Regions from separate parts of the Homo sapiens genome. Here region 1 is linked to region 2. The links come from fine-mapping of genetic effects on plasma protein levels. A gene starts in region 2. The other region holds a variant in brackets. All regions are shown on one strand. Distances are between the middles of the regions.

Region 1 (16,426 bases), 320 kb before region 2:
GCCATGGAAAGGGGCCGTAACTCCTGGATGTTGCCATGATAATGGTAAACTGACATGGCACCCACGGGCATGTCTGATGGAAAGCTGCTTCCACCCAGTCCTGTTTTAGCTAGTAGTCAGTTTGGTCCAGTGTCTGAGTCCCGCCTCTGGAGTCAAGTCCCACCTCCTACTTCAATAGCTCACTGCAGCCTTGACCTTCTGGACTCAAGCAATCTTCCCACCTCAACTTCCTGAGTGGCTGGGACCACAGGCATGCTGATGTACCCAGCTAGTTAAAAAAATTTTTTTTTGTAATTACAGGGTCTCACTACATTGCCCAGGCTGTGACATCAATATCTATAGCTGCTTTTCATAAAATGCCATGAAAAACCTAACAGGTCACCAAGTACCACACATGTAATACACCCTCAAAAAACACTGGTAGGAGAAATTCTCTAGGATCAACAACCCAGGTTCTTCAACTAATAAATGACACGTAAGGAAGAAAGGGAGAGGCAGGGAGACACAGGTGACAGAACATATGGATTAAAAGACACTGAAGAGATCCATCACCAATCACGAGGTGGGGACCTTACTGGGATCCTGATTCAAACACCTGTTTAAACTACAAATTTGAACACTCACCAGATATTTGACAATACTAAGGAATTACTGCTAACTTTAGGGTGTGATAATGATACTACAGAGTTTTTTCTGTTTTAAAAAGACAGTCCTTGTAGTTTACTACCAATATATTCCTAACTACTTATGGGTGAAATCAACGTTGTGCTTTGGATTTCCTTCCAAACACTACTTGATGCTGGGGAAACAGGAGGGTAAGTGGATGAAACAAGACTGGACAAGAGTTGATAACTATTGAAGTAGGGTGATGAGTATATGGAAGTTCTTTATGCTCTTTTGCCTACTTTTTACCAGTTAAAAAAAAAATTTAAAAAAAACAGAGAGACACCTGTGAGATACAGCCTGCCTCCTCTTCCTTCAGAGACCTTCCTTAGGGAAGGAGTCTGTTTGTAAAGGAGACCATGCTGGAGGCTGGAAACCCATACGCTGGTGGAGCCTGCAGGCTGTGGTCACACCTCCTCATCTCCAAATCCCTCACTTTCCCAGGGCCTGTGTAGTGTGCTGCTGACATGACTATGTGTGTTGTTAACTGAAGTCAAGGCAGAGAGCCAAGCAAAGGGCACATCCAAAAGACAGAAAAGCTCCGAGCTTAGCCATCTTGCATAAATGAGATGCTCCAGTTCCTTGTTCGGGAAGCTGGGAAGGAGAAAGAGTGAGCCAGGGGCCCCCTAAAAGACGTTCTTAAAGAAGCTCCTCTCCCTGATACTCCAACCCAAGAATCAATGGGACTAGCACGAGCCTCTTTTAACAGGCTTTTTAAAGTATGACTATGGTATTGCAGTAATGTGGGGTTTTTAAAAGACCTCTTATCTTTTAAAGATAGATTCTGAAATACTCAGGAATGTAATAATATGGAACCTGGGATTTTCTTCAAAATACCATGAGAGGCTGAGGTTTGATGGGTGGGACGGGATACAGATGAAGCAAGACTGGCCAAGAGGTACTAACAGCTACAGCCAGGTGATGGGTACATAGAGGCTCATTACACTTTTATTTCTGTATATGTTTCAACTTTTACATAATAAAAAAATTTTAAGGACACCTTGGGGCCGGGTACAGTGGCTCACACCTGTAATCCCAGCACTTTGGGAGGCCAAGGCGGGTGGATCATGAGGTGAGGAGATCGAGACCATCCTGGCTTACACGGTGAAACCCCATCTCTACTAAAAATACAAAAAAATTAACCTCACATGGTGGTGGGGCCTGTAGTCCCAGCTACTTGGGAGGCTGAGGCAGAAGAATGGCATGAACCCGGGAGGCAGAGCTTGCAGTGAACCGAGATCACACCACTGCACTCCAGCCTGGGCAATACAGCAAAGCTCCATCTCAAAAAAAAAAAAAAAAAAATCCTTGGAGGTTTAGCCCTGTTAGTCATTCACACTTCAGTGGGAATTACACCTATCCTGCTAGAAACTATAACTTCTTACCCTTTTTCACTGATATATAGGAGACACTTAAACACTCCATTTTGCTTGGTAATCAAACTATATGAGGTAAGAGCCTGGTCTCAATCCACTCAGCTTCATGTGATTAAAAAAAAAAACAAACAGGACAGGCATAGTGGCTCACACCTGTAATCCCAGCACTTTGGGAGGCCGAGGTGGGAGGATCACTTGAGGTCAGGAGTTTGAGACTAGCCTGGCCAATACGGTGAAACCCTGTCTCTACTAAAAATACAAAAATTAGCTGAGCATGGTAGCGTATGCTACTGTGGAGGGGGAAGCAGGAGAATCACTTGAACCCAGGAGGCGGAGGTTGTAGTGAGCTGAGATCGTACCACTGCACTCCAGCCTGGGCAACAGAGTGAAACTCCATCAGAAAAATAAAAAATAAATAAATAAATAAACCTAACATCATACCTTTCATTTTGAGTATCAGTTTAATGTAGATCTCAGCTCAGAGTTTTTTATCCTGAGTCCTTATAAAAAATCCAGTATTTTATTGAAAAGCCCATGCTGCTCTTATACAAAAATGACTCCTGGACACGCATGAGAAGTGTTGGAACCCATTGGTGCCAATTTATGAGGCAGGCACTGGTGGTGTAACTGCTCCCAAGGTCCTGGCTGCTTCCGGAATTTTTACACTTTATTAAAATGATGATCACATTCACAGTTATCTACAGCGTGTGATTATGAGTGTATTTTTTACCAGCTTGATGTTCAAGCTTACTTTTCCATTAATAGCGACTCTGCCATTATAATGAGAACAAATGTTGCTAATACACCATTTATTTTACCCACAAGAAAAATTCAGGGACTAACCACACTCAGACAGTAAACGATAAGTGTCTTATAATTTTAAAAATCAATCATCAGCTAGCTGAGCCCTGCCATATGGAAGGGAGTAAAGTTCTGTTTGCAGAGGATGGACTGGCAATATTGAAGCAGAAGATACACAAGTGGGGCAAACAGCTAGAAAACGGTGCCGGCAAGCAAGAGCTGGGAGAGCCCGAAGACAACATGAGGGAGCTAAGCCCTGCTAAACAGTGAGTGGAAGGAGAACTGAAGGGAAACGGCATCTACTGATTACATACGGATACAAAGCTTTACCTAAGTGAGAGCACCGCTGGTAAGCAAAATAAACAGATTCTAACCTAAGCTAAAATAGAATTCACTATAAACAGGCAGAAAAGTGGGGAAATCAGGCTCAGAAAAGTAACTGAGGCCAGGCACAGTGGCTCATGCCTATAATCCGTCCCATCACTTTGGGAGGCCAAGGTGGGTGGATCACCTGAGGTCAGGAGTTCGAGACCAGCCTGGCCAACACGGCGAAACCCCATCTCTGTTAAAAATATAAAAAATTAGCTGGGTGTGGTGGCACGCATCTGTAATCTCAGCTACTCGGGAGGCTGAGGCAGGAGAATTGCTTGAACCTGGGAGGCAGAGGTTGCAGTGAGCTGAGATTGTGCCATTGCCCTCCAGCCTGGGTGACAGAATGAGACTCTGTCTCAAAAAAAAGAAAAAAAAAAAAGGAACCGAAACCAAAGCAGTTCTGGCAAGTTCAACACAGAAAACAATTAGAGTCTTATCAGACTCATTGCTATTAGTCTATTGAATAAATGCTTACTGTTAATTGCTATTGAATAAACGGCCTCCCAAGCATTGCTGCATTCTTATACAACTCCAGAGTTAAAGCCCCCATGGGCCTAGCTCAGGTCATGTACCCAGCCCTGAACCAAAACCAGGGCAAAGCATTTGGACATACTGTCCCACCCAGACAGCACGCTATGGTGGAGAGGGAAGCCCTCCAAAGAAAGTCAGGATGGAGGGGAGAAGAGGAAGCACAGAGACACCTCCTGTCTACTGCAGGCACTCAGCTGGGTTCTTATGTGTCATTCCCAAAACAAACCCACTCACAGGTATGACTGGCTGCATTTCACTAACAGAGAACTTGAGGCTTAGAGAGGTTAGGGGGCGTGCCCAGGAACATACGGCAGTAAGTGGCAAATCTGAACTCAGTCTGACACGCGATACATGTGCTTTCCAAGTCACCAGGCTGCAGAAGGCAGCGACAAAGTGATGCAGGCCCAAAGTCCGAATGTCGCCAACACTTCACATTGTTGTGAAGACAACTGCTGAAAAAGAATAGAACATCTCTGAAGATGAGTCCAAACCAAAGGAAATGTACTTAAAAGAGGTAAAGAAGCAAGAGTCTCAGAAGAGATCAATCTTGGATGTGTCCAATATCTTATCTTCAAAACCTTGGTTGTTTCTGTTCTGGTGTCTTAGAATTTCAAGAAGCATGGGGAAGTTTACAGAAGAAATTCTGAGCATCACCACTAACAGTCCCTAAGAAGTGGGGAGGAATTATCTAAAGAAGCTGTGGTTAGGTGCCAACCTCTGCAGAACTGCCGTCAAAGACACAGCTCCAGGCCTGTGGGTATAACCCTACCTCTGCACTTCAATTATCTGTCCTGACAATTAGAACAGGCACGTCTGCCTCACCCACAAGAATGCAAGCTCCCTAAACACAGGCACTGCGTCCCATTCATTTTTGTAACTTAGGACCACTCTTGGCATGAGGAAGAGCTAATGCAACTCACAGATGAAACACCAATGACTTTGCAACAGAAGTCGCTCTGCAAGTGGCTCATGCCTGTAATCCCAGCACTTTGGGAGGCTGAGGTGGGTGGATCACGAAGTCAAGAGATCAAGACCATCCTGACCAACATGGTGAAATCCCCATCTCTACTAAAAATACAAAAATTAGCTGGGCATGGTGATGCGTGCCTGTAGTCCCAGCTACTCAGGAGCCTGAGACAGAAGAAGCGCTTGAACCCAGGAGGTGGAGCTTGCAGTGAGCCAAGATCACGCCACTACACTCCAGCCTGGTGACAGAGTGAGGCTCTGTCTCAAAAAAGAAAAAGAAAAAAAAAAAAAACAACTCCATCTAGGGTAGTCAATGCCATTTCAGGGATGTCTCTGTTTCAACCTCACAACTTCCTTGGCTCATCTCCTACAACCATCAACACTGCTGCTCCCAGGGTAAGAAAAGCCACAAAGGGAGGAGAAAGGAAGCTAAGGGCTGGACACTGAGAAGGCGCTCAATGGATGTGCACAAATTGAGTTGGCACCATCTATTACTCAATGGTGTCCCCAGGCTCTCCAAGCTATGCCTCCTGCTAACATTAAGGGCCAGAGTAAAGTGTGCCTCCTCTCCAGAACCCATGTGCTCTTATTAGCTATCTAATCCTTTCTACCAGGTTGCTCTGAGCTCTAGTTAAGACTTAACTGTGGGCCGAGTGCAGTGGCTCACGCCTGTAATCCCAGCACTTTGAGAGGCCAAGGCAGGCGGATCACCTAAGGTTAGGTGTTCGAGACCAGCCTGGCCAACACGATGAAACCCTGTCTCTACTAAAAATACAAAAAATTAGCCAGGCATTGTGGTGGGCACCTGTAATTCCAGCTACTCAGGAGGCTGAGGCAGAAGAATCGCTTGAACCTGGGAGGGGGAGGTTGCAGTGAGCTGAGATCAGGCAATTGCACTCCAGCCCGGGCAAAAAGAGCAAAACTCCATCTCAAAAAACAAAACAAAAAAATACTTAATTGTGATGCCTTAGACAATTCACTCCCAATCTGAGGTTCTAGGACTCACATTTATCATTCTTTACGCATTACACAAGATGACTGAAGCCACTCAACAGGCTGGCCTTCTATTCAATGTTATGTTTCTCCTACTATATGCTGGAGATGGGTTGGGCAATGAAGATACAATTTAAAAGACAATGTCCGCACTGCCCTCGAGGAACTCTCACTCTGCTGTTCTGCTACAAGTTGCTTTGGAAGCAGGTAATCCTTGGCACAGACAAGATGTGCTTTTCCCCTTTCTTCTCCAGTAACAAAGGGTTTGTGATGTCCCCACCACCAGCGCCATCTCAAATGGCTGATATTGCTGCAGTTGCTGTTATCTACTACTAGTTTTCCCCCTTGTGTCCTGCCATTCATTCTCTTGAACATCGGTAGTGATCGTCTCTTCCGTCAAGTTAACCTTCTTCTTCAATGAGCTCAGCCTTCCAAAGCACGGCAGAGAGTTGTGGGTTTGCACTCTGGTGCTCAACTGTGAGGATTCAAATCCAGCTCTGCATTTTTTTTTTTTTTTTTTTTTTTTTGAGATGGAGTCTCACTCTGTCGCCCAGGTTGGAGTGCAGAGCCATGATCCCAGCTCACTGCAACTTCCTCTTCTCGGGTTCAAGTGATTCTCTGCCTCAGCCTCCCAAGTAGCTGGGGACTATAGACATATGCCACCATGACCGGCTAATTTTTGAGAATGGAAACAGATTCTATCTGGCAGACATAGTTTCCCCGTGTTGGCCAGGCTACTCTCGAACTCCTAGTCTGAAGTGATCCACCCGCCTCGTTCTCTCAAAGTGCTGGGATTACAGGTTTGAGCCACCACGCCCAGCCCCAGCTCTGCTTCTTAGCAGCTAAGGACTCTTGGGAAAGTTACTAAACTTCCCAAAGCTTTGTCTGTGAACTGGAGGCAGCAAGAGTGTCCTCCTCAAAGAACTCTTCTCAGGATCACATATGTTCATCTACGTAAAAACCCCAGCACAGTGCCTGGATCTAACAGTACTCACCTGACAGCTGCTGCTAGTATTACAGGGGCTGTGATACTACTAGTGCTTTTACCCTTGCCAGATTAATGTATACCTGCCAGAATTCTCCTGTCCTCCTTGTTTTCCTGAGTTAACAACCACAGGGTGTCAGGAACAATTTTTATACCTCCAGTCCTTGGCACAAGATGCCCACCAGCCATTTAAAGAGGGCTTTATGGCACCGACTTTAGGTTCTGTGCTGTCCAGGACACTGGATTCCAGGTCACCAAGCACAAATGTGTAGTGTGTATGTGCAGATAGATGAGTTGGCTTTCATGCTCTCAAAGACACCTAGATAAAAAAATTCTCAGAAACTCCCTTCGCACTGGGATGAATCACCATGTTTAAGGTGTTCCAAATATCCTTATTATCTAAAATGAGATGGACTGGGCACAATGGCATACACTTGTGATCCCAGCACTTTGAGAGGCCGAGGTGAGAGTATTGTTGGAGGTCACAAGTTTGAGACCAACTTGGGCAGCATAGCAAGATCCCATCTCTAGAAAAAGTAAATTTAAAAAAATTAGCTGGGAATAGTGGCACATGCCTGTAGTCTCAGCTACTTGGGAGGCTGAGGTAGGAAGATCCGTTGAGCCGGGGAGGTTGAGGCTGCAGTGAGCCAAGGCTGTACCACTGCACTCCAGCCTAGGCGACAGACTGAGACCCTGTCTCCATAAATAACTAAATAAATACAATGTTTCTTCTTCTTCCTTTGCCCTTCTGACACGGAAAGAAACTATATCAACTTTTCCCCTCACATTCGTTCATTACTCTAACAAGTCTTTACAACTATTTTGGTAAAAATCAACCCATTAACAGAATGACAGAAGCATCACAAAGAACGTTCTGAGGGTCTCGATTAACAGCAAAAGTATTGGTGTAGTGAAATGCTAATGCTATTCACAGATGAAAGATCACCGGCAGAACCTGTCTTTGCAACCAAAAAAGAAGGAAAAATCAATCCGGTGCAGTAAATGCCGTTTGAGGACATGTCTGCTTCAACCTCACACTTCTCTCAGCTCGTTGACCACAGCCAGCATCTCTACTGCTCCCGGGATAAAAAAAACAAACAAGAAGGAAAAGAAAGGAAGCTTGAGGCCAGTAAGACGAACCTTCATGCCTCAACCTTGAGCCCTCCCGTTTGGTGGTTCCACACTCACCCTCTCACAGCTGGCCAGAACGGCCAGGCAGGTGGACCCTGCAGTAACTCCCCACATGACCTGATCCTCTCCACACATCTCAGCTCAGGTCAGCACAGCAGGGGATGAGATTTTCACATGGTCAAAGCAAAGCGGGTGGTGACACGGCCAGGACACAGCCACAGCATCACCTTTCTCCCCTCATCTACTCTGTTCCCGACCCGTGAGTCTCCTTTCAGTTCCTGCCAATGCTTTCCTTGTACTCAGCCTCTGTTCTTGCTGTTTCTGATGCAGAAAGCAGGCATCTCATAAACACTGAAATAAATCATCCAACCACCCGGCCCACGAATGAACTAGTGGCACTTGGCTCAGAGGGTCAAACACCCAATCAATCAGAGGGTCAAACACCCCCACCCCACCCCTACACGCTGCCCAGCAGCCCCACAGGTGGAGAATCTCCACGGAGAGCGCTGCCTGGACCCAGCACTCAATGCCTTTGTGGACCCTGCGAAGTAGGCACCCTCACTGAGCTGCACTGGTCTGATGGAGTCCTCACCACAGCACCCTTGTTCCCCCAGAGGAACAGAACCTTTCATCCTGCACTTTCATTCTGAGAACCCTTTCACCTTCTCTAGCTCATCAGGCCTTCATTCATTCATTCAGTAAATCCAGACATCCCCATCCCAGGAGAACTTAAAAATTCAAGGGTTACGCAGCACCTACCATTTGCCAATAAGTGGCTGTGGAACGTACAGAGGTGGCAAAGACACAGTCCTACCTTTCAGGGGTTCGAATCCTGACACAAGTCGTCCCAATCCTGAGATTGGGGCCCTGCTTCCCTCTCCACTTGGGACTTCCGGGCACAGACTCATGGCCCAGAACCCTGGCACTGCCACCAGCCAAGTCTGAGTCTCACAGCCCCACTGAGGGAGCTCCCAAGGAAGGGCAGAGCACTGGGCAGAGAGCACACAGGAGTGCCCTGTCCCCAGGCCTCCCCAGCCTGGCTTTTGACTCATCCCCACCAACCTGTGTGTTAAGGCCTCAGCTTGCCTTCCCTTGAGCTCACCTGAGTTAGAATGCAAGCTGTT[TCTAAAGCCACCTTCC/C]TTCTTTAGAGGCAATTTAGAGACCAGACAAAACAGATGGTAAGAATGGCAGCCTGCACCAGCAATGAACTTAGGGGAACACCCTCCAAGGCCCTGGGCCTCTGAAACCCACCCAAGCTCAGGTATGTCTACACAGCAATGAGCGAGTGTCTTCTTGATTATCAAAATAAAACTCACTGTAGAAGATTTAGAAAGAACCGAAAGTTTGCTTGTATACTTAGCATGTGTATGTATGTACATACAGACATGACTTACAATACTACCACCAAGGGACCATTACAACATGTACACACACCTCATCAAAAACATAGCTTCTCAACTTTACCATTGAATATGGTAATAAATCAATGGTTTTTGAAAAACCTCTTTATCATATCCAAGAATTACCCTTTTTTTAATCAGGTATCAATAAGGTTATAAAATGATTTTTCATTTCCTACCAAGATAATTATCTGGTTGTCCTCTTTGAGGCTACTAATGAGATGACTTACATGGATGAATTTCCCAACATGCAGCCATCCTTGCAATCCTAAATAAACCCTATGTTTTATGTGCACTGTTCTTTTAATATGCGACTGAATTTGAGTAATGACTTTCTAGAATTTTTGTACATCTTATACACAAATGATTCTATTTGATAGTTTTCTTTTTTATGCTATCTTTGTCAGGATTTTTTTATATCACAGTAATGCATACCTGAACCAAGATAGAGACGTATAAAAACCCTCTCAGGAAATATAAATAGCAAAGGGCTCTTTGTGTATTACCTTGAAGAGTTTCCTAGAAATCACCATGAAACCCTCTAGGCTTGCTGTCTTCTAAGGAAGCAGTTCTTCAGTAATTTGTACAACTTTATTCCAAAATGTTTTGGTTTTTTTTTTCTTTTCTTTTGAGGGTGAGGGGGTCCCTTCGACCAGTTTGCCTCATCTTCAATTAATTCTGATAATGAATGTTTTTCTGAAAAATAGTTCACCTCATCCATATTTTCACATTTAACAGCACAAAGGTGCATGTGATATTCTCTGTTTTCATCTCCAAATCTTACAATTGTTTTATTTTTAATGTTACACATATATGTTTTCTCTTATGTCCTTATCATAAGTGCCAAAAAGTTCCAATATTTAAGTGACATTTTTCAAAGGATCAGCTCATACTTCTTTTTATAAAGCACACTGATTTGGTCTTGCTTTGTTTTGTGGGGCTGAGGAGTTGCTTGGTCGTTTTGCTCACGTGTCTTTAGAATAGGCTGGACCTACCCTGGAAAGTCTCCAACGCAGCCAACATCAGAAACAAAGACACACAGACTCCACCGGCCTTACCTCGATGAGCTTTCTTTCGTAGGAGCTTGCGAGTTCTTCAGCAATTTCTCCCGGCTTCTGTTCAGCTACTGTAACTTCTCCATCAACACTCCAAAGATTTGGCACTTTAGAGAAAGAGAGACATGTCATAAATATTTCAACAGTATCGAAAATTATTCTCCCAGTAAAAAAAGAAAAAATTCTTCTTTCTCAGATGACTTCAGACTGAAAAAGCTCTCAAGAAAAACACACACACACACTTACTAACTACTTCAACAATGGGACATTTTCACCTAAGTACAATAAAACGAGTGACAAGGCCAGGAATGGTGGTGTGCGCCTGTAGTGTCAGCTGCTCAGGAGGCTGAGTTGAGAGGATCGCTTGAGCCCAGGAGGTCGAGGCTGCCATGAGCTATGATTGTGCCACTGTCATCCAGCCTAGGTGACATAACTAGACTTTGTCACTTAAAAAAATAAAAAGCGATAAGCTGTATTTTTAAAATGCAAGAACTGTCATGAGACAGAAGCACAGGAGTCAAGAAATAATCTTGTCACTACTTTCCATTTCAGGAGAAAACAGGCAATGTTTTGGCAGGTTTGGCAAGACATAAGAGCTGGTTGTTTTGGGGGGTGGAGGTTTTGTTTGTTTTTTTGAGATGGGGTCTCCTCTGTCACCCAGGCTGGAGTATAGTGGCACAATCAATCATTTAGCTCACTACAGCCTCGAACTCCTGGGCTCAAACGATCCTCCTGCCTCAGCCTCCTGAGTCACTGGGACTGTAGGCATAACCCTGCTGCAGCAGGCTAGTTCTTTTTTTGTTTTTTTAGTTTTTGTAGAGACAAGGTCTCACCATGTTGACCAGGCTAGTCTCAAACTCCTGGCCTCAAGTGATCCTCCCTCCTCAGCTTCCCAAAGTGCTGAGACTACAGGTGTGAACCACTGCATTCAGTCCACTTACATCTTTTATATTTGCCAAGTTCCTTTTTCTACAACAAAAAAGTGATCCAGTGAGGTAGGGCCTGCTGACAGCCAGCTGTGGAGCACTAATGGGGGTCAGAGTATGTGTAAAACCAAGGATTGGTATTTATAAACCATACTTAGGATGACAGCAAGAAAACCTTTAGAAAAACTCGGAAACCAACACAGAACGTCAATGCAAAAGACATGTTAAAGAGACTGGCTCCCAGGTCAGAGCAAGCATGCACACAAACGGCTCTGAGTAGTGTTTCCATGATTATGTATATGCCCATATATGCCCACTCTGCAGGGAAAAACAAATAAAGAAAAGCTGAGAATGAACCAGATAGTTCCAAGAAAAGCAGAAAACAAGAACAGGGAAGACCTCCCACACCAAGGGCAAAGAAAAACATCCACAGCATGTTTAAGAATGTGGATTAGCCTCAAGCCTCAAAACAAGCATCAATGATGCAGGATCAGTTTCCTGTGTGTTCTGGGACAAGAAATCCCTTGGATGCCCTATCAGCTGTATGGAGGGGCAGTGAGGCTAAACAAGGATCTGAGACTAGCCCCCCAGTGATGCGGGTAGCCTTCAGGAAGAAGGTGAAAGTCAGGAAGGCTGAGCAAAACCAGGAGTCAAAACTGATGCAACTAAGCCAGGTGGCTAAGCCTCCTCAGACCACACTGTTAGAGCCCGCCGAAGGCTCAAGACCCTGAGTGACAGCAGGAAACACGCAGAAAGAAGCCCTGAGTCCTGGGCCACGAATGCAGGGAGTGACCCAATCACAACAGATAACCCCAAACAGTTATGGAAAGAAAAACTGTGAAGAACTCTGTAAAGATGAGAGCCTGAACACAGTAATTTACACTCACATCCTCTCAAAATCCCATTAAAATGTCAATTAAGGCCAGGTGCGGTGGCTCACACCTGTAATGCCAGCACTTTTGGGAGGCCAAGGCGGGTGGATCACTTGAGGTCAGGAGTCCGAAACCAGCCTGGCCAACATGGAGAAACCCTGTCTCTACTAAAAATACAAAAATCAGCTGGACATGGTGGCATGCTCCTGCAATCCCAGCTACTCGGAGGGCTGAAGCAGAAGAGTCACTTAAACCAGGGAGACGGAGATTGCAGCGAGCCGAGATGGTGCCACTGCACTCCAGCCTGGGCAACAGAGCAAGACTCTGACCACGCCCCCCAAAAAAAAAAAAAAAAAAAAACAATTAAAATGTTTCCTATGAGGTGATGATGAATATGGTAAGTACCCAGATTTGATCATTAAATTTTGTATACATCTATCATAATATCACACACTACCTCATACATATGCACAATTTATTATGTGTCAAAAATAACAATAAAAGCAAAAAAAGGTTTTTATAAAGACATCGCTCACAAAAAAAAAAAAAGAATTGGAGAGGAAACAAAAAAAACAAAATTACAGAAGCTAAGAATCAGGTAGATGACTGATAAATAACTTGACAGACCTGAGAAAATTTCATTCCTAAACAGACATGGATGCCACCAAAATAATATCTGATGAGAATGGAATGATTCATAAAACGCTAATGAACTGTTAGCACAAGACACCTCTGGAAATGACGGTGAACACAGGACTAGAAAGCAAAAGAAAGGTTTTAAAAGTCTGTTTAAGAAGCGATTAGCAAAATATACATGTTTATTCTCTGGAGAAAACGCAGTAGGTCTGGACTGAGTTGAGGTTAGGGTATTCCATTTTTTTAATGGAGACATAAAAGTAACACACACTGAACTTCTGAGTTTCTCCCATTCTTCTTCCCTCTCCCCAGCCCCACTCATTCCCAGAAGAGCAGGCAGACAGCATGTGCCTCTAAGCCAGGGAATGGAAAGGTATTCTCCCAGGAATCTAAAAAAACTTTGGAGACCAGGGGTAGTTCTCCAGTGGAATGGCACAGCCAGATCACCCCAAGAGGCCCAAAGTCAAAGTTCACGGAGCTTTGGATCAATTTCTAACCCCATTCCAACACCTGAGTAGACATCTAGAAATCACATCCCATTTGAGAAAAGCACCTAAGATGAAAGACTGAGACAGGAATAAACAGAGAAAAGCAACTTGCAGGAAAGAGAGACTATTTAGGGAAAACACTTCAAAAGCAAACTGTGGGTAATATTTCCAGAGAGAGAGGAGGAGACAGTGTAGTCATGAAATAAGAATACGGAGATATTTAAAAAGGAGAAAAAGAAAAACACAAAGCACACAAAAGCCCTTTTACAGAGTGAAACTATAACAGCAGAAATAGAACAGGGACTGTAAAGGAAAGGGTAGCAAAATTTCCAGAAAATAGAGGCAACGAATAACAAAATAGAATACAAGCCTGGGCAACATGGTGAAGCCCCACCTCTGCAAAAACCACAAAAATTAGTATGGTGTGGTGCCACATGCCTGTAGTCCCAGGTACTCGGGAGGCTGAGGTGGAAGGATCGCTTGAGCCTCGGAGGCAGAGGTTGCAGTGAACTGAGATGGCATAGCTGCACTCCGTCCTGGGCCACAGAGCAAGACTCTGTCTCAAAAAAAAAAAAAAGAGGTGGGGAGAATAGAGAACTACAAGTCCAAATGGAGAAGAGATCAAGAAAGGAGAAAAAGATAACACACAGAAGAGGAAATCAAAGATATAATTCAGAGCCAACAGACACGAGGGGCAGGATGGAAGAGTTCAATGAATGTCCAGCAAAATGGACAAAAGCAAGCCTCACTCACAGACTTGAGAACACAGGGGACAGAGAAGACAGGCTACCAACTTCTGAAGTGGAAGAAGAATTTTTACAAAGGATAAAAACTAGAAATGGCATAGGGTTTCTAAACAGCAACATGGAAAGCTAGAAAACAATGAAGAAACCTCTTCAACATTCTGAAGAAAAATTATTTTGAGCCTTATACACCCAGGCAAGCCACGTGAGAGGCAGGATAAAGGCATTTTCAGACATGTGACCGTGCAGAAACTTTACCCCGCACATAAAGAAGGGAAGAATTCTAGCAATCGTAATACATAGATCCCAAGATATAGGGGATGCAACACAAAAGGGAGCCAGAGAATACTTCATAGTAACAAAAAAGCATAAACAACCCAAATGGCCATCACCTGGTAAGTGAACAAGATGCGGTCTAGCCATGCAGGGTTGTACTATTCAGCCATGAGAGGAATGAAGAGCAGACTCACGCTGCAACACAGATAGACCGTGAGAGCATTCAGCCAGGGGAAAGAAGCCAGATCCGAAAGGCTGCAGATTACCTGAGCCCACGTACACGAAATGTCCAGAGAAGGTCTTAGTTGCCAGGGTCTGGGGGAAGGAGGGATGAAGACCCTACTGCTAAAGGGTATCAGGCTTCTTTGGGGCATGACAAAAATGTTCTGGAATTAGAGAGTGGCGATGGTTGCACAATTTGTGAATATAAAAACCACTGAGGGTCGGGCTTGGTGGCTCACGCCTGTAATCCCAGCACATTGGGAGGTTGAGGTGGGCAGATCACCTGAGGTCAAGTGTTCGAGACCAGCTGGCCAACATGGTGAAACCCTGTCTCTACTAAAAATACAAAAATTAGCCGGGCATGGTGGTGTGCGCCTGTAACCCCAACTACTCGGGAGGCTGAGGCATGACAATCACTTGAATCCGGGAGGCAGAGGTTGCAGTGAGCCGAGATCCCACCATTGCACTACAGCCTGAGCAACAAGAGGAAAACTCCATCTCAAAAACAAACAAACAACAACAAAAAAAAAAAAACAAAAAACAAAAAACCACCACTAAAATTATGCACTCTCAAAGGCTGAACAGTATGTTATGTGCATTATATCTCAAGAAAGCTGTTAAGAAAAAAAGTGAGTTGGAGAGTGTGGGCCCACCAGCAGCAGGCTTCTGGCTAGAGTAGGCCAGAAGGCACCAGGAGAGACTGCCTTGGGTGCAAGCGGGAGGCGGCCTACAGTGCCTGAAGGCACCAGGGGGATTAACACACTGAGGATGAACTTGGAGTTGAATTAAGTATTAACACCAGAGAAATCAAGAGATCGTGCAGGAAAAACGATCATGCACTTCACAGCTGTAGATAGCATTTCCAGTTATAATAATGTAATCACTGAATACTGATCTAACCAAAATGATGATATGACTGTGCCAGAGGATGGGGAGCTGCGTGTTGCGTGTGTTTTCTGGAGGTGGAGCAGTCAAAGACAGTTACCCTTCCTCTTCCACGATGAGAAATAAGTAATTCCAAAAACTGAAAAATAAAAAAGCGGCAACAGGCGTGTTGATCAGAGATATGGAGGCAACAACCCAAAGCATGAGTGGAAAAGCTTCCAAGAGGGGCTTCTGAAGGGTGGCAAGTGGGAGACAGTGACAGCCAGAGGCCTCCTGTCTTTTGTAATAAAGCTAAGAGAACCAATGACTTTATCTATGTACCTGCAAAGTTTTGATTTAAAGACACAAACAAAATTATGTGTAAACTATGATTATATGTTAGTGATATGTAAACTATGTAATCAGAATTTGAGGGGAGCCTGCACTTAGCCATGGGACTTAGAAAAGTCAGGTAAGAGAGCAGTGGAGCCCGTCGGCAGGGCAACCAGGACACAGATACCTTGGCAGGCACCGCAGCATGAAGCTGGCTGCAGCTGCTCAGCAGAGCCTGGTGCTAATACATACGCAAAATGGCGAACTCACAGCCCTGCTCTACCCGTGACTCCAAATGATCTCTTCATCTTGCCCAGGCCCAGGCTGCTGCCCTCTGCAAGGAGGTCCTGCTCATCACAATTCATTCAACCCGCTTCAAGTCCACACATCTCATTAGCAATCACGCCACTGGCCTCCTGTCCCCAAGGCACTAGCCCCGTCCCCAAGGCACCAGCCCCTCTAGGACTATATTTAAGAAGAATCAGCAACCTTCAACACTGGTGGGGGCAGAGGTGCAGAAATAAGCTTTTTGACCTTAAAGGCTTGGGGAAAGACCCTGGACAGTCATGAATTTACATAAGTTCTCTCAGCAACTAGCCAGTCAACCTTCCCCTGCAACTACCTGACTTCCTTGCTGCCCTGGTTCAGTTTTAGCAAGCATGCCAAAAATTTCAATTCCATGTATGAAATAATACAAAATTAAGCCTAACTATATCATACTTTTCCCATCAGTAAGCAGCTTCGAAGATGGACCCCAGGCAGGGCACAGTGGTTCACACCTGAAATCCCAGCA
Region 2 (16,426 bases):
TCCTGACCTTACGATCTGCCCACCTCGGCCTCCCATAGTGCTGGAATTACGGGCGTGAGCCGCGGCATCCAGCCCAGAACAGACTCCTTAGTAGGAAACATTTACAATCTATTTTCTGAAGCCTGCCACCTGGAGGCTTCATTGGCATGACAGAACTACGGTCTCCACAATCCCTTATCTTAACACAGAAATTTTTTTGTTGGTTTGTTTTTGTTTTTTTGAGACAGAGTCTCGCATTGTCGCCTGGGCTGTGGAGTGCAATAGCGTGATCTCAGCTCACTGCAACCTCTGTCTCCCAGGTTCAAGTGATCCTCCTGCCTCAGCCTCCCGAGTAGCTGGGATTACAGGTGCCTGCCACCACACCCGGCTAATTTTTTGTATTTTTGGTAGAGATGGGGTTTCACTATGTTGGCGATGCTGGTCTCAAACTCCTGACCTCGTGATCCACCCACCTCAGCCTCCCAAAGTGCTGGGATTACAGGCAAGAGCCACTACGCCTGGCTGATTCTAAATCTTTAGACCATAACTTAACTCTTTCAACCAATTGCCAATCAGAAAATCTTTGAATCTAGGCCAGGAGCACGGTAGCTCGCACCTGTAATCCCAGCACTTTGCGAGGCTGAGGAGAGCAGATCACTTGAGGTGAGGAGTTCAAGACCAGCCTGGCCAACATGGCAAAACCCCATCTCTACTAAAAATACAAAAATTAGCTGAGCTTGGTGCCGCACAGTTGTAATCCCAGCTACTTGAGAGGCTGAGGCTGGAGGATTGCTTGAACCTGGGAAGCAGAGGTTGCAGTGAGCCAAGGTTGCGCCACTGCACTCCAGCCTGGGTAACAGAGCAAGACTCTGTCTAAAAAAATAAAAAAGAAAGAAAATCTCTGAATCTACCTATGACTTGGAACCACCCACCCCCCCACCACCCCACTCCCCCATACCTGCTTCTAGTTGGCCTGCCTTTCTGGACCGAACCAGTGTACATTTTATATGTATTGACTGATGCTTTTTGTCTCCCTAAAATGTATAAAACAAAGTTGTAGCCCAACCACCTAGGGTATGTGTTCTCAGAATCTCCTGAGGGCTGTGTCATGGCCATTGGTCACTCATATTTGGTTCAGAATAAATCTCTTCACATGTTTTAGAGTTTGACCCTTTTCTTTAACATGACTGACCTAGCACACAACAATGTAGCAGATGAAAATGCTGATTTTAGGCCAGGCGTGGTGGCTTATGCCTGTAATCCCAGCACTTTGGGAGGCCAAGGTCGGAGGATCGCTTGAGCCCAGGAGTTCAAGACCAGCCTTGGCAACATGGCGAAACTCCATCTCTACTAAAAGAATAAAAAAAATTAGCCGAGAATGGTGGTACATGCCTGTAGTCCCAGCTACACAGGAGCCTGAGGTGGGAGGGTCACCTGAGCCCCAGAGGTCGAGGCTGCAGTGAGCCAAGATTATGCCACTGCACTCAGCCTGGGCATTGGAGTAAGACCCTATCTCAAAAAAAAAAAAGAAACGAGTAAGAAAATGCTGATTTTAGGCCAGGCGCGGTGGCTCATGCCTGTAATGCCAGCACTTTGGGAGGCCAAGGCAGGTAGATCACGAGGTCAGGAGTTCAAGACCACCGTGTCCAACAAGGTGAAACCCCGTCTATATTAAAAATACAAAAATTAGCCAGGCGTGGTGGCAGGTGCCTGTAATCCCAGTTACACGGGAGGCTGAGGCAGGAGAATCGCTTGAAACCAGAAGTTGGAGGTTGCAGTGAGCCAAGATCGTACCACTGCACTCTAACCTGGGCAACAAGAGTGAAACTGTGTCTCAAAAGAAAGAAAAAAAAAATGCTGATTTTAAACACTGGAAGGCCAGGTGCAGTGGCCCACACCTATAATTCTAGCACTTTGGCAGGCCAAAGTGGGTGGATCACCTGAGGTCAGGAGTCCGAGACCAGCCTGACCAATATGGTGAAACCCCATCTGTAGTAAAAATACCAAAACTAGCTGAGCATGGTGGCATGCGACTGTAGTCCCAGCTACTCAGGAGGCTGAGACAGGGGAATTGTTTGAACCCAGGAAGCAGAGGTTGTAGTGAGCTCAGATAGCACAACTGCATTCCAGCCTGGGCGACAGAGTGAGACTTCATCTCAAAAATAAATAAATAAATGAATAAAAATAAAGACTGGAAATGTGGGACAAGACAGGTTTTCACCATGTTGGTCAGGCTGGTCTCTAACTCCTGACCTCAGGTGATCTGCCTGTCTCGGCCTCCCAAAGTGCTGGGATTACAGGCATGAGCCACCACACCCGGCCATACCCAGGAGTTTTTGTGTGCTTAAAATGAGTTAGTATAGGCCGGGTGTGGTGGCGGGCACCTGTAATCCCAGCTACTTGGGAGGCTGAGGTAGGAGACTCTTGAACCTACCTCTTGAGGTAGAGGTTGCAGTGAGCCAAGATGATGCCAGTGCAGTCCAGCCTGGGCAACAGAGCAAGACCCCGTCTCAAAAAAATAAAATGAGCTAGTACAGGTGAAGCACTTAGAACAGTCCCTGGCACGTTAGTAAGACTATATAAGGGTTAGATATGATTATTATAGCACCACTCACATTTTGGGCTGAAAACAGTATGTCGTGCACCGTTATCACAGTTTGCGATTACACATTTACTTGTGTAATTATAGTAATGCCTGATGCTTTCATTAAGCTGGAAGCTCACAAGGCCAAGAACCACCTGTGCACTGCACACTGAATTCGTCTGGTTGATTCTAGGCTTCTCCTGTTTGCAGAAGTACATAAGTTAGCTTTCCTTTAACAATAAAGAGAAAAGGCCAGGCACAGTGGCTCACGCCTGTAATCCCAGCACATTGGGAGGCCAAGACAGGTGGATCACGAGGTCAGGAGTTCAAGACCAGTCTGGCGAAGATGGTGAAACCCTGTCTCTACTAAAAATACAAAAATTAGCCAGGCGCAGTGGCGGGCACCTGTAATCCCAGCTACTCGGGTGGCTGAGGCAGAGAATTGCTTGAACCCGGGAGGCAGAGGTTGCAGTGAGCTGAGATCGCACCACTGCACTCCCGTGTCAACGACAGAGCGAGACTGTCTCAAAAAATAAATAAATAAAATTCAAAAATCAAGAGAAACATCCGATCCTTCCTGAAATCTGTATGTATGTATATCGGAGAGAAGCGCCCTAACCATAGAAGCGTATGACTGGGGCCGGGCGCGATAGCTCACACCGGTAATCCCAACACTTTGGGAGGCCAAGGCAGGTGAATCACCTGAGGTCAGGAGTTCAAGACCAGCCTGACCAACACAGTGAAACCCCATCTCTACTAAAAATACAAAAATCAGCAGGGCATGGTGCCACGTGCCTGTAATCCCAGCTACTCGGGAGGCTGAGGCAAGAGAATCGCTTGAACCTGAGAGGTGGAGGTTGTAGTGAGCTGTGATCATGCCACTGCACTCCAGCCTGGGCAACAGAGCAGGACTCCGTTTCAAAAAAAAAAAAAAGAAAAGAAAAAGAAATTGGTTACTGAGATCTACAGAATGCTGTTTTTTTCAGTAAGTCAAGCGTTTAGAGGTCTCTAGTGAGAAGATTGTCATGTCAGCATGTTCAAGGTGATGAGCATCAGCTAGGATGATTGAGGTTGTTTGCAACAACCTCAGTGGAGAGTGGATAGTGTGGAGAAGGTCTGTGTTAAATGCTACACAGATAACACCATTGTGGACCTTAAGAAGCTGATTACAGCCCAGACTAGGGCTGTAACAAGAACAACCCTTTCAGGAACAAGACTCCTGAATAAGTGGTATACAATTTTTAAGGACCACATATCTTTGGGGCACTATAAAATCCAGCAGAAGATGAAGCTGGAGGTCTTTTTGTTTGTTTGTGTTGTTTTGTTTTGAGACGGAGTCTCACCCTCTTGCCCAGGCTGGAGTGCAGGGATGCTATCTCAGCTCATTGCAACCTCCACCTCCCAGGTTCAAGCGATTCTCCTGCCTCAGCCTCCTGAGTAGCTGGGATTACAGGTGCCTACCACCATGCCCAGCTAATTTTTGTATTTTTAGTAAAGACAGGGTTTCACCATGTTGGCCAGGCTGGTCTCAAATTCCTGACCTCAGGTAATCTGCCCGCCTCGGCCTTTCAAAGTGCTGGGATTACAGGCATGAGCCACCGCGCCTGGCCAAAACTGGAGCTTTATTATCAATAGGTTAGAATTCTTTCCCCCTCCCACCTTTCTCTCCCACCCTCACCCCCCACACTGGTATACATGCTTGTTTTTAAAAACTCACGTTAATAAAAACTTAGATGTCAGGAAAAAAAAGAGTTTAATCATGAAACCAAGGAAGTTTCTACCATTAAGCTCCCAACAGTAACCTAGAGAAATATATCTAACATAAAGAGTTTCCACAGTTAGAGGACAAAAAGCTGTATCGGCAACTGAAAAATACAGTCATCCTAAAGAGATCTGACACATCATCTATTCTGACAAAAGATTTTTAAAGTGGCACTGCTCGAGTCGAAATGGTTAATTACCTAGCAGAAATTGATTTCTCTATCTCCGTAGCACTCAAAGCAGCTGGCAGGCTCTTGCAATAGTCATTCGTTTTCGTGGTGACAAGAATGGTTGCGCCTTCCTCCATAGCTGGGAGTGGAAAGCAATGGTCAGAGTCGACCTTCGGTTTGCTCTTGATGCAGTCTTCACAGGTGCATTCTTCCACCGTGTACTCGAGGCCTCTCGGAAGAATAATTTCATCACCAGTCCTGCTCTTTTCCAGGTCAATGTTAGCCATGCCCAGGAGACCTGATCCTAATTATGTAGAAACGGAAACATTAACCCAAACTTCACAGAGAATGTGGTCATGAGAGTCTTAGCAGTACACATCGGGACTCAAAGCAATGTGAGAGAGATTTTTTCATTTTTTAGAGGTGGGGTCTTACTGTGTTGCCCAGGCTGCATTCAAACTCCTGGGCTCAAGCAATCCTCCCACGTTAGCCTACAGAGCAGTCGGGACTACAGCTCCATGCCACCACACCCAGCTTGAAACAGATCTTTTCAGTAAAAAAGAATGAGTATGTGCTGGGCCCTGTGGCTCACGCCTGTAATCCCAGCACTTTGGGAAGCTGAGGCGGGCAGATCACTTGTGGTCAGGAGCTTGAGACCATCCTGGCCAACATGATGAAACCCTGTCTCTACCAAAAAGTACAAAAATTAGTCGGAGGTGATGGCACATACCTATAGTCCCAGTTACTCAGGAGGCTGAGATGGGAGAATTGTTTGAACCCAAGAGGCAGAGGCTGCAGTGAGTTGAGATCACGCCACTGCACTCCAGCCTGGGCCACAGAGCGAGACTCCATCTCTAAATAAATAAATAAATAAATAAATAAATAAATAAATAAATGCATACAGAAATAGGGCAGTGGCTGTACATGCTTGGGAATCCAATCATGAGCAAAGGTGCTGCAGAAGTATTTTTATCTTAAGAGGCACTTAAGTAGAACATTCATTTTTCTGGGACTGGTTCTCTATTGCTTAAAAATAATTATTTTTTAGATGATTCCTCAAATAATTCAGGAGCAACTGGTTATTCATTTCTAACATTTTTCAGTAGTAAAATGTTCACTCAAGCAAAGAACACCTATATTTGTATAAAAACATGACCATAGATCTTGACAAATATGCTTTTCCTGACAGTAGCAGACCTGGCTAGGAGTTTCTGATAATGTGGCATTTAATCGATGTGCTAACTTTAGTCAAAGAGACTGATGTTTCCCAAGAAAGCCTTAGTACTTTCAATAGAGTAATTAACAGTGGAAGAATCCTGGAGAAGACTGACATTGTAGAAAATCTGCCAAGGTGTCAAAATCAGAATGAAGATGGCTCACCTCTACCAAGTTCATTTAATGTAACAATGTTCTAACACATTCGAAAGGGCTGTAACGAAGTGAAATAGTCAACGCTAAAAAAAGAAAAGGAACTGAAACTCACAATAGCCATCCCCTGGAAATAGATTTCAAAGATTCACCATCAAACCAACCTGTGTTTTTAAACTCGTCCTTTAATGGTTCAGAGTTTATCTTCCTTAGCAAAAACATTAGCACGAAAACTGCCAAAGAAATTATTAAGCTCAGTCCCAAACAGGTCCAGAGAATCGCATTCGTTCCTTTCACTGAATTGGTCACACCTTTATGAAAAGAACATCAGACAGATAATGAGCTGATAACATAATATTCACATACTTTATTGTTATTATTTATTTATTTATTTTGAGACAAAGTCTTGCTCTGTTGCCCAGGCTAGAGTGCAGTGGCGCGATCTCGGCTCACTGCAACCTCCACCTCCCAAGTTCAAACAATTCTCCTGCCTCAGCCTCCCGAGTAGCTGGGATTACAGACCTGTGCCACCATGCCCAGCTAATTTTTTGTATTTTTAGTAGAGACAGGGTTTCACCAGGTTGGCCAGGCTGGCCTCAAACTGCCGACCTCAGGTGATTCACCCACCTCGGCCTCCCAAAGTGCTGGGATTACAGGTGTGAGCCATCCACCGCACCCGGCTGTCATACTTGATTATTTTGCTAAAATAATGAATTATGGATTGTTTTGATAGCAAAATAATCAAGTATGGATTATTTCCATTCAATCACCTTAATTAATGAACATTGACTTTTAAATTCTAAATATCACTTAATTAGAAGAGCTGATTTTTAAAAAAAATCTATGTTGCTAATAGTGCTGAATCATATCAAGTTCAGTTCCAAATAATTACTTTGTTTCCATAAACATTAAAATCACTGCCTTGCTTCCTTTCTCTTTTTGATTCAAGAAAACTCACCATCATGCCCATTATGTTGATTCTCTGAATAAGCAGTCCATATAGACAGAATAGTTCACACCAATGAATAATCGTTCAAGCAATATTACTTACTTGCATTACAATAACGCTGACATGTTAGAGGAGGAGTATTAGAAGAACATCGAAGTTGACAAGGTATGCAAGCATGCAACAAACTGTCAAAATATTCATTTTGGGAGCACTGCCCAGCCATCTGCAACATGATCACAAAAAGAAAACAAGGGAGCTACAGAAAGAACAGCCTGGAAGGACAAGTAATATCTCTACAAGAATTCCAGAGCAAATGCAGCAAGAGCAGCTAGAATGTTGAGAACAATGAACTTCGCCTGCTTCGTGGGTTCTTACGGGGGCTGTCTGTGTCTTCGCGGCAGCTAAGGATTTGAATACCACATCTAATTCAAGTTTCTAAGTTTGAGTCTTGGATGGGGTAAGAGACAGGGTGTAAATATCAGGGCATATCACATCTGAAACAGAAACTGCTTATTTATAGAAGAAATTTCTCAGCCAGGTGACAGTTGCAAGATGCAGACAAGCCCACAGCATCAAGCCGAATGTTCAGTAACAGTTTCTGGAACATCTGTTAATAAGCTGTACTCTGTGAGAGGTGCCAGGGAGATAGACAAGACAAGGTCTGTGCTGTGCCCCTTAAGATCTTAACATTGAGGCCAGCTGCAGGGGTTCACACCTGTAATCCCAGGACTTTGGGAGTCAAAAGGCAAAAGGATTGCTTGAGCCCAGGAGTTCAAAATCAGCCTGGGCAACATGGCGAAACCCTGACTTTACAAAAACATTTTAAAAAGTAGTCTGGTGTAAGCTGGGCGCCGTGGCGCTCTCCTGTAATCCCAGCACTTTGGGAGGCCGAGGCAGGTGGATCACTTGAGGTCAGGAGTTCCAGAACAGCCTGGCCAACATGGTGAAACCCCGTCTCTACTAAAAATACAAAAATTAGTCAGGCATGGTGGCAGGCACCTATGATCCCAGCTACTCAGGAGGCTGAGGCAGGGAGACGTGCTTGAACCCAGGAGGCGGAGTTTGCAGTAAGCCAAGATCAGGCCACTGCGCTCCAGCCTGGGTGACAAAGCAAGACTCTATCTCAAAAAAAAAAAAAATTCTACAGGAAGATCAGAGGTGATGCACTAAGGAAGACGCACAATGCCACTGACAGAAAAAGAGACATTTAGGGTAAGAGCTCGTGGAAAGAGGGCTGAGAGGAAGATAGGTTTGGGGTATTATAATAATAATACAATAATCTATGTTCCATTGTTGAAAATTTAGAAATACAGATGAGCAGATAAAACCATTTTAAAAATCCACAGTCCAAGCATCCAGAAGTCATCACCGCTAACACCTGGTGTATCCCAGAAGTTGCAAACAGACCTGCCGATGCGATGTCTTTTGTTTCACCGATCCCTGAATTCTAGATAGATACATTTATATAGTGCATTTTTCTGTTTACATAAATGGATCACTTGAATTTGCCTTTTTTTTTTTTTTTGACAGAGTCTCACTCTGTCTCCCAGGCTGAGTGCAGTGACACAATCACAGCTCACTGCAGCCTCCACCTCCTGGGTTCAGGTGATCTGCCCACCTCAGCCTTCCAAGTAGCTGGGACTACAGACATGCGCCAGCACGCCTGGTAAGTTTTGTATTTTTTGTAGAGATGGGTTTTTGCCGTGTTGCCCAGGTTGCTCTCAAACACTTGGGGTCAAGTGATCCACCCACCTCGGCCTCCCAAAGCGCTGGGATTACAGGTGTGAGCCACTAAGCCCAGCTTGAATTTGCTTTTAACCATACTGAGTGAAATACCCATATAGAGACGTCCAGATGTTTGTCAAAAATGCAGGACTCAATTAAAATTTGAGGAAATGGCAAACTCCTAATTCAGTATAGTGATTATCTCTGAGGTAAGTGGTGGGGAAGAAGGGGAGCACAAAAAAGGCTTCACCTGTGTTTATTATATTTTCTTTATTAAGCTGAGTGGTGGATACATTGATATTTGTTGTTTTCCTTTTGTTGTATTTTTCTTATTCTTTACACTTTCTTAAGGCCCAAGGAGTGTGCCAAGGAAACCTGCCATCCCTTCTACTTTATTTCATCCTCCAAGCACCCCAACCTTTAAAAACTTATTCTTTTTTTTTTTTTTTTTGAGCTGGAGTTTCACTGTTATTGCCCAGGCTGGAGTGCAATGGCGCGATCTCGGCTCACTGCAACCTCCACCTCCCAGGTTCAAGCGATTCTCTGGCCTCAGCCTCCTGAGTAGCTGGGATGACAGGTGCATGCCACCACGCCTGGCTAGTTTTTGTATTTTTGGTAGAGACGGGGTTTCACCGTGTTGGTCAGGCTGGTTTCGAACTCCTGACCTCAGGTGACCCACCGGCCTTGGCCTCTCAAACTGCTGGGATTACAGGCATGAGCCACCTAGCCTGGATGATTTTTTATTTATTTGTTTGTTTGTTTGTTTGTTTGTTTTGAGATGGAGTCTCCCTCTGTTGCCAGGCTGGGGTACAGTAGTGCGATCTGCAACCTCTGCCTCCCGGGTTCAAGTGATTCTCCTGCCTCAGCTTCCGGAATAGCTGGGATTACAGGCATGCGCCATCATGCCCAGCAAATATTTGTATTTTTAGTACAGACAGGATTTCACCATATTGGGCAGAATGGTCTCAGTCTCCTGACCTCGTGATCCACCTGCCTTGGCCTCCCAAAGTGCTGAGATTACAGGTGTGAGCCACCGCGCCCAGCCACTGATAATTCTTGTTTTTAAAATTCATATTATTAAAAAATAAGTATTCAAACAGTGCCAAAGATTTTTCAATGAAAAGTAAGTCTTTTTCCTACCCTGGATTTCCTCTCTCTTGCCAGAGGCAGTAATTACTGTCAGTCTTCCTCTTTTTTTTTGGTTTTTTTTTTTTTTTTTTGAGACAGAATCTTGCTCTGTCACCCAGGCTGGAGTGCAGGGGCGCTATCTCAGCTCACTGCAAGCTCCGACTCCCAGGTTCATGCCATTCTCCTGCCTCAGCCTCCAGAGTAGCTGGGACTACAGGCACCCACCACCATGTCTGGCTAATTTTGTTTTTGTATTTTTAGTAGAGATGGGGTTTCACCATCTTAGCCAGGATGGTCTCGATCTCCTGACCTCATGATCCGGGATTACAGGCATGCGCCACCATGCCCAGCTAATATTTGTATTTTTAGTAGAGACAGGGTTTCACCATGTTGGGCAGAATGGTCTCAATCCCCTCACCTCGTGATCGACCCGCCTCGGCCTCCCAAAGTGCTGGGATTACAGGTGCAAGCCACCGCACCCAGCCTTTTTTTTTTTTTTTTTTTTTAAGACAGGGTGTTGCTCTATTGCCCAGGCTGGAGTGCAGTGGCACCATCAGGGCTCACTGCAGCCTCCACCTTCTGGGCTTAAGCGATCCTCCCACCTCAGCCTCCTGAGTAGCTAGGACTACGCACATGCCACCATGCCCAGCTAATTTTTGTATTTTTTGTAGAGATGAGATTTCATCATGTTGCCCAGGCTGGTCTTGAACTCCTGGGCTCAAGTGATCTTCCTGCCTCAGCCTCCCAAAGTACTGAGATTACATGTGTAAGCCACAGTGCCCAGCCACTGTCAGTCTTCTGTCTTTCCAAATAGAGCCTCTGTTTATGTCTGTCTATTCAGACCCTACCTATTTTATTTGTATCCACCCAGGAGGCAGATAGAGCATATTATACAACTGCTCATACCTTTTTTTTTTTTTTTTTTAAACAGGGTCTCACTCTGTCACCCAGGCTGGAGTGTGGTGGCAAAATTTCAGCTCACTGCAACCTCCGTCTCCCAGGTTCAAGCCATTCTCTTGCCTCAGCCTCCCTAGTAGCTGGGATTACAGGTGCGTGCCTCCAGGCCTGGCTAATTTTTGTATTTTTAGTAGAGACGGGGTTTCAGTATGTTGGCCAGGCTGGTCTCGAACTCCTGACCTCAAGTGATTCGCCCGCCTCGGCCTCCCAAAGTGCTAGGATTATAGGCGTGAGCCACTGCGCCTGGCCTCTTTTTGTATTTTTAAAGTAGTCCATAATAAATGCTAAAATCATGAAAATAAAATGCAGAAATTTAAAAAAATACTTTTTTTTTTAAATGCAGGACTTGAGCCTAGGAAAGATTTTGAACTTAGATATTGATCAAAACGTCAAATTCCTCTGGGGTCCAGGTGGTGAGGTAAGTGGGAGAGGCTGCCTAGGCAGGACAGGGAGAAGCTGAAGCAGCTGGCCCAGGAGGCTCCACTCCCTCAGCCTCTGCCAGATTGCTGACCTTTGGAAGACAGGCAAAGGAGACAGGACAAACATGATTAGAGAAATAGGGAGAGAACAAAAATTATCTCCCAGGCTGGGTGCAGTGGCTCACACCTGTAATCCCAGCACTTTGGGAGGCTGAAGCAGGTGGATCACCTGAAGTCAGGAGTTTGAGGCCAATCTGGCCAACATGGTGAAACCCAGTCTCTACTAAAAATACAAAAATTAGCCAAGCGTGGTGGCGTGCATAATCCCAGCTACTTGGGAGGCTGAGGCAGGAGGATCGTTTGAACCTGGGAGGCAGAGGTTGCAGTGAGCCAAGATTGCGCCACTGCACTGCAGTCTGGGCTACGGAGTGAGACCGTGTCTCAAAAAAAAAAAAGAAAAGAAAGAAAAAAAAATCTCCCATAACAGTCAAGCAAGGAGAGATTTTAGCCTGAGTTAGGGAGTGGAGTCAAATTCTACAGGAAGATCAGGGGCGATGCACTAAAGAAGCAGGTCATTGATGGCCTTTGAGTGTGTCCCTGATGCAAGCCAGATGGTAGATATTTAAGGAGTGGTGAGGAAGAGGAGGCAGCCAATAGGAGCCATGCCTGAGGCCAGGCGCCATGGCTCATGCCTGTAATCCCAGCACTTTGGGAGGCTGAGGAGGGCGGATAACCTGAGGTCAGGAGTTTGAGACCAGCCTGGCCAACATGGTGAAACCCCGTCTCCACCAAAAATACAAAAAATTAGCCGGGCATGGTGGCGCACACCTGTAATCCTAGCTACGTGGGAGCCTGAGGCAGGGCAATTGCTTGAACCTGGGAGGCAGAGGTTGCAGTGAGCTGAGATCATGCCACTGCACACTCCAGCGTGGGCGACAGAGGGAGACTCTGTCTCAAAAAAAAAAAAAAAAAAAGGGAACCATACCTGGGAAGCCAGAAGCCAGGGGAAGAAAGCTTTGCTAACTCTTTGGAAAGAAAACACTATTGTGTCTGACAGATATACTTGCTCAGGTACTTAAAATCTCAGGTACAATGTAGTTTACTGTGACATCACATCTATTCATAAGAGCCTAGAGCAACAGAACTGTTCGTCACTGGGAGCCTCACAATGGAAGACTATGGCCATCAGAAAGAATGAGACAGATGTGGTCTCATATGAAAGATAAATCACTAAGTGAAAAACACAAAGTACAGACTGGGCACGGTGGCTCACACCTGTAATGCCAGCATTTTGGTAGGCTGAGGTAGAAGGATCACTTGAGCCCAGTAGTTCGAGACAGCCTGGGCAACACAGGGAAACCCTATCTCTACAAATAATTTAAAAATTAGCCAGGTGTGGTAGTGCGTGCTTGTGGTCCCAGCTGCTCAGGAGGCTGAGGCAGGAGGATCACCTGAACCTAGGAGGTTGAGGCTACAGTGAACCATGGTTGTGTGCTACTGCACTTCAGCCTGGGCAACAGAGCAAGACTGTCTCAAATAAAATAAAATTTAAAAAAATAAAATAGGTAGTGTCTGAATAGACAGACATAAACGGAGACTTTTTTTGCAAAGCTAGAAAGAAGACTGATGGACTGTCTCTGGCAATAGACAAAATCTAAAGAAAGAAAAAGACTCACTTTTCATTGAAAAATCTTTAGCAGTGTTTGAATATTTTTTTTTAATAATATGATTTTTTTTTTTGAGACGGGGTCTCCCTCTGTCACCCGGTTAGAGGTAGTTGGGTGATCACAGCTCACTGCAGCCTGGAATTCCTAGGCTCAAACAATCCTCCCGCCTCAGCCTCTCAGGTAGCTAGGACTACGATAGTACGCCACCATGCATAGCAATTTTTTTTCCTTTTTAATTTTTTGTAAGGGCAGGGTCTTGCTCTGCTGCCCAGACAAGTCTTGAATTCCTGGCCTCAAGCTATTCTCCCACTTCAGCCTCCCAAAGTGCTGGGATTACAGGTGTGAGCCACTGTGCCTGGCTAGGAGCATGATTTTGAAACAAAGATTTTTTTTTAAGTTTTATGAGACAGGTGCTGATGTAATCACATCACCAAAAGAGTGCTGTGTTTGCCCTTGCGTGACATAGAAGGAACAGTGAGGAATCCAGTACTCACACCAGCCTCAAGCTTCACTTGTCACTCACAGCTCTAAGGAAGCAAAGTGGTGCTGGAAACTCCCAAAGCCATTAAAGCTGCTTCTGCCACGGCCCGAGCCCCAGCACCAAATGCTTGGCTGCCCATTCACAGAGGCAAGAGCCATACAGGGGCAAACTAAACCCCTCTACGAGCTCCCCCTGCAGAGCCCCACTTTGGCAAACAGACATTCCTGACTTCTAGATCCACTGGTTGGTGACTCCTCTGGTCCCACTCCCAGATCTTCACCTCCCGAGATCCTGCAATAATTGTGCAAAGTCTCATTCCTTCCCTTATCCCGTAACACTCACCCATGGTAGCTCAGCTCCCCAAACCAACCCTGATTGTTACCACCTCTTTAACCTTAATATTTTCAACCTACAGGCTTTCTTATTTTACTTTGTTTTTGAGACAGGGTCTCACTCTGTTACCCAGGCAGGAGTGCAGTGGTGAGATCAAAGCTCACTGCAGCCTCAACCTCCCCGGCCCAAGTGATCATCCCACTTCAGTCCCCTGAGTAGCCGGGACTGCAGGCACATGCCATCTTGCCTGGCTAGGTTTTTTATTTAACTTTATTTTTTGCAAAGATGGGGGTCTTGCTGTGTTGCCCAGGCTGGTCTCAAACTCCTAGACTCAAGCCATCCACCCCACTTGGCCTCCCAAAGTGCTAGGATTATAGGCATGAGCCACCATGCCTGGCCTAGGATTTTTTTTTTTTTTTTTAACGGAGTCTCGCTCTGTCATCCAGGCTGGACTGTAGTGGCGTGATCTGGGCTCACTGCAACCTCCGCCTCCTGGGTTCAAGCACGTCTCCTGCCTCAGCCTTCCTGAGTAGCTGGGATTACAGGCACCCACCCACCACGCCCAGCTTAATTTTGTATTTTTAGTAGAGGTGAGGTTTTGCTATGTTGGCCAGGCTAGTCTTGAACTCCTGACCTCAGGTGATCTGCCCGCCACAGTCTCCCAAAGTGTTGGAATTACAGGAGTGAGCCACCGCACCCAGCCAGCATTTTCACTGTGTACTGGGCCCCACAAGTTAAGTAGTCAGTCCTGAGTGACTCAATAAAGACAATGTTAGAAAGTTCTCATCATAGGATTTGGATTTGTGTCAGGTTATTTGGGGAGAGTTTGCAAAAACACGGCTTAGCTGATGTTGGCAGGATGTGTGGGGGATTCTGTAATTGGGGAATATCTAAGTATCAGTAGAATTCTCCAGAGAAATAGAACCAAAAGGAGATACAGAGCTAGAGACAGAGATTTACTTTAAGGAATTGCTTCATGCAATTGTAGGAGCTGGCAAGTCCAAACTCCGCAGGGCAGGCCAGCAGACTGAAAATCCACGTAAGAGTGGATGTTGCAGTACTGAGTTTGAAATCCACAGGGCAAGCCAGGCAGGCCAGACACTCAGAGAGGGTGTCTGTGTTTCAGTCTTGAGGCTGAATTCCTTCTTTTTCAGGAAATCTTGGTCTTTGCTTTTTAGGCCTTCAACTGATTGGATGAAGCCCACGCACATTATGAAGGGCAGTGTCCTTTATTCAAAGTCTACTGATTTAAGGGCCAGGCACGGTGGCTCAGGTCTGTAATCCCAGCACTTTGGGAGGCTGAGGCGGGCAGACCATTTGAGGTTAGGAGTTCAAGACCAGCCTGGCCAACATGGTGAAACCCCGTCTGTACAAAAAATACAAAAGTTGGTAGGGCACGGTGGTTCACAAGGTCCCAGCACTTTGGGAGGCCGAGGCAGGTGGGTCACGAGGTCAGGAGATGGAGACCATCCTGGCTAACGTGGTGAAACCCTGTCTCTACTAAAAGTATAAAACTTAGCCGGGCGTGGTGTCACACGCCTGTAGTCCCAGCTACTCGGGAGGCTGAGGCAGGAGAATCGCTTGAACCCAAGAGGCGGAGGTTGCAGTGAACCGAGATCACACCACTGCACTCCAGCCTGGGCGACAGAGTGAGACTCCATCTCAAAAAAAAAAAAAAAAAGAAAAAGTTAGACAGGTGTGGTGGCACATACCTGTAATCCCAGCCACTTGGAGGCTGAGGCAGGAGAATCGCTTGAACCCCAAGCAGTGGAGACTACAGTAAGCTGAGATCGCACCAATGCACTCCAGCCTCGGTGACAGAGTGAGACTCCATCTCAAAAGAAGAAGAAGAATTAATTAATTAATTAAAAATAAAAATAATAGCCATCTTGGCAACAATTGGTGCTGCCTAAATGAGGAGGCAGGGCCAGCTGTGGAGCCCTCCTGGGGGCCTGGTCAGCAGGGTACCTGTCCTCCACCCCCTAGTGCCTGGTACCCCTGGGGTGAAGCCAACTGAGCATGGAGAGTGAGAGCCTGCCAAGAGCAAAAGAGGTTTTCAGGAGGGGACCTCAAGAAGCCTGGTTCCAATGCCAGCATGAGCATCTGGTTCTCAGTCAGTGTTCCTCCTGGGCATTCTGCAGGAGATCATTTCTTTTCTTTTCTTTTCTTTTGAGACAGAGTCTCACTGTGTTCCCCAGGCTGGAGTGCAGTGGTGCGATCTCAGCTCACTGCAACCTCCACCTCCTGAGTTCAAGCGATTCTCCTGCCTCAGCCTCCTAAGTAGCTAGGACTACAGGTGCCTGCCACCACGCCCAGCTAATTTTTGTATTTTTAATAGAGATGGGGTTTCACCATGTTGGTCAGGCTGGTCTCAAACTCCTGACCTCAGGTGATCTGCCCGCCTCAGCCTCCCAAAGCGCTGAAATTACAGGCGTGAGCCACTGCTCCCGGCAAGAGATCATTTCTCATCCAGATGGCTACTGAGAGCGGGACTCCAGAGAGTGTTCATTTTTTAGTGCAATGTGGGAACCAGGCCTTTAACCCACCCTGTGGGCTTTCCACTAAGAGCCCACAGAGCCAGGTTCAAGGCTTGGTTCTCCCACTTACAGGGCTTGAGCAATTCAGTTTCCCTGCCTGAGTGTTGGTGACCTGTGCTGTGAAATAGAGAGAGACACCTACGACCTGCTGTCAGAGCCCATCAAGGTAAGATCACAAGAGGGAGGTGCCCATCAACATGGGTCTTGTTCATGGAAGAGGCGCAGAGGAAAGATTCATGCATGATTAATGACTGGCGGCAATTTCCTGCCTGCCTTTGGAATGAATCAAAAATAAGTGAAAACGTGTGGCTGAGGCAAAACATTTGGGTCTTCGGGAACTCTGCAGTGGACCAGAGGAGGCCTGGGGC

Alleles and levels. Alleles are on the strand shown, and positions count from the first base shown. The strength of an association depends on the size of the effect and on how common the allele is.
For the plasma level of the protein whose gene starts at base 7,158 in region 2, allele C in region 1 goes with a lower level than allele TCTAAAGCCACCTTCC (weak association).

The links. PIP is the chance, under the fine-mapping model, that this variant and not a neighbour inherited with it causes the effect. The UK Biobank Pharma Proteomics Project read protein levels with antibody pairs (Olink). The fine-mapping took linkage between variants from a reference panel, not from the people measured, so its PIPs are less certain.
Region 1: its variant is fine-mapped to the plasma level of the TNFRSF17 protein (UK Biobank, PIP above 0.99).

The regions. Positions count from the first base shown.
Region 1 is chr16:12,271,887-12,288,312 of GRCh38, reverse strand. It overlaps SNX29 (sorting nexin 29), which reads right to left. Exons shown (of 21, transcript NM_032167.5): 15 at 10,277-10,380. Among named protein-coding and RNA genes, the nearest start is that of SNX29-AS2, 93 kb to the left of the region's middle. RefSeq lists an enhancer at 3,888-4,017. The variant TCTAAAGCCACCTTCC/C (reference allele first, on the strand shown) is at 8,943.
Region 2 is chr16:11,955,942-11,972,367 of GRCh38, reverse strand. It overlaps TNFRSF17 (TNF receptor superfamily member 17), which reads right to left and starts at 7,158. Exons shown (of 3, transcript NM_001192.3): 1 at 6,914-7,158; 2 at 6,027-6,173; 3 at 4,300-4,798. The coding sequence starts at 7,043. The coding sequence ends at 4,521. It also overlaps a transcript of NPIPB2 not described here and the pseudogene UBL5P4. RefSeq lists enhancers at 6,931-7,370, 7,491-7,610 and a silencer at 9,122-9,291.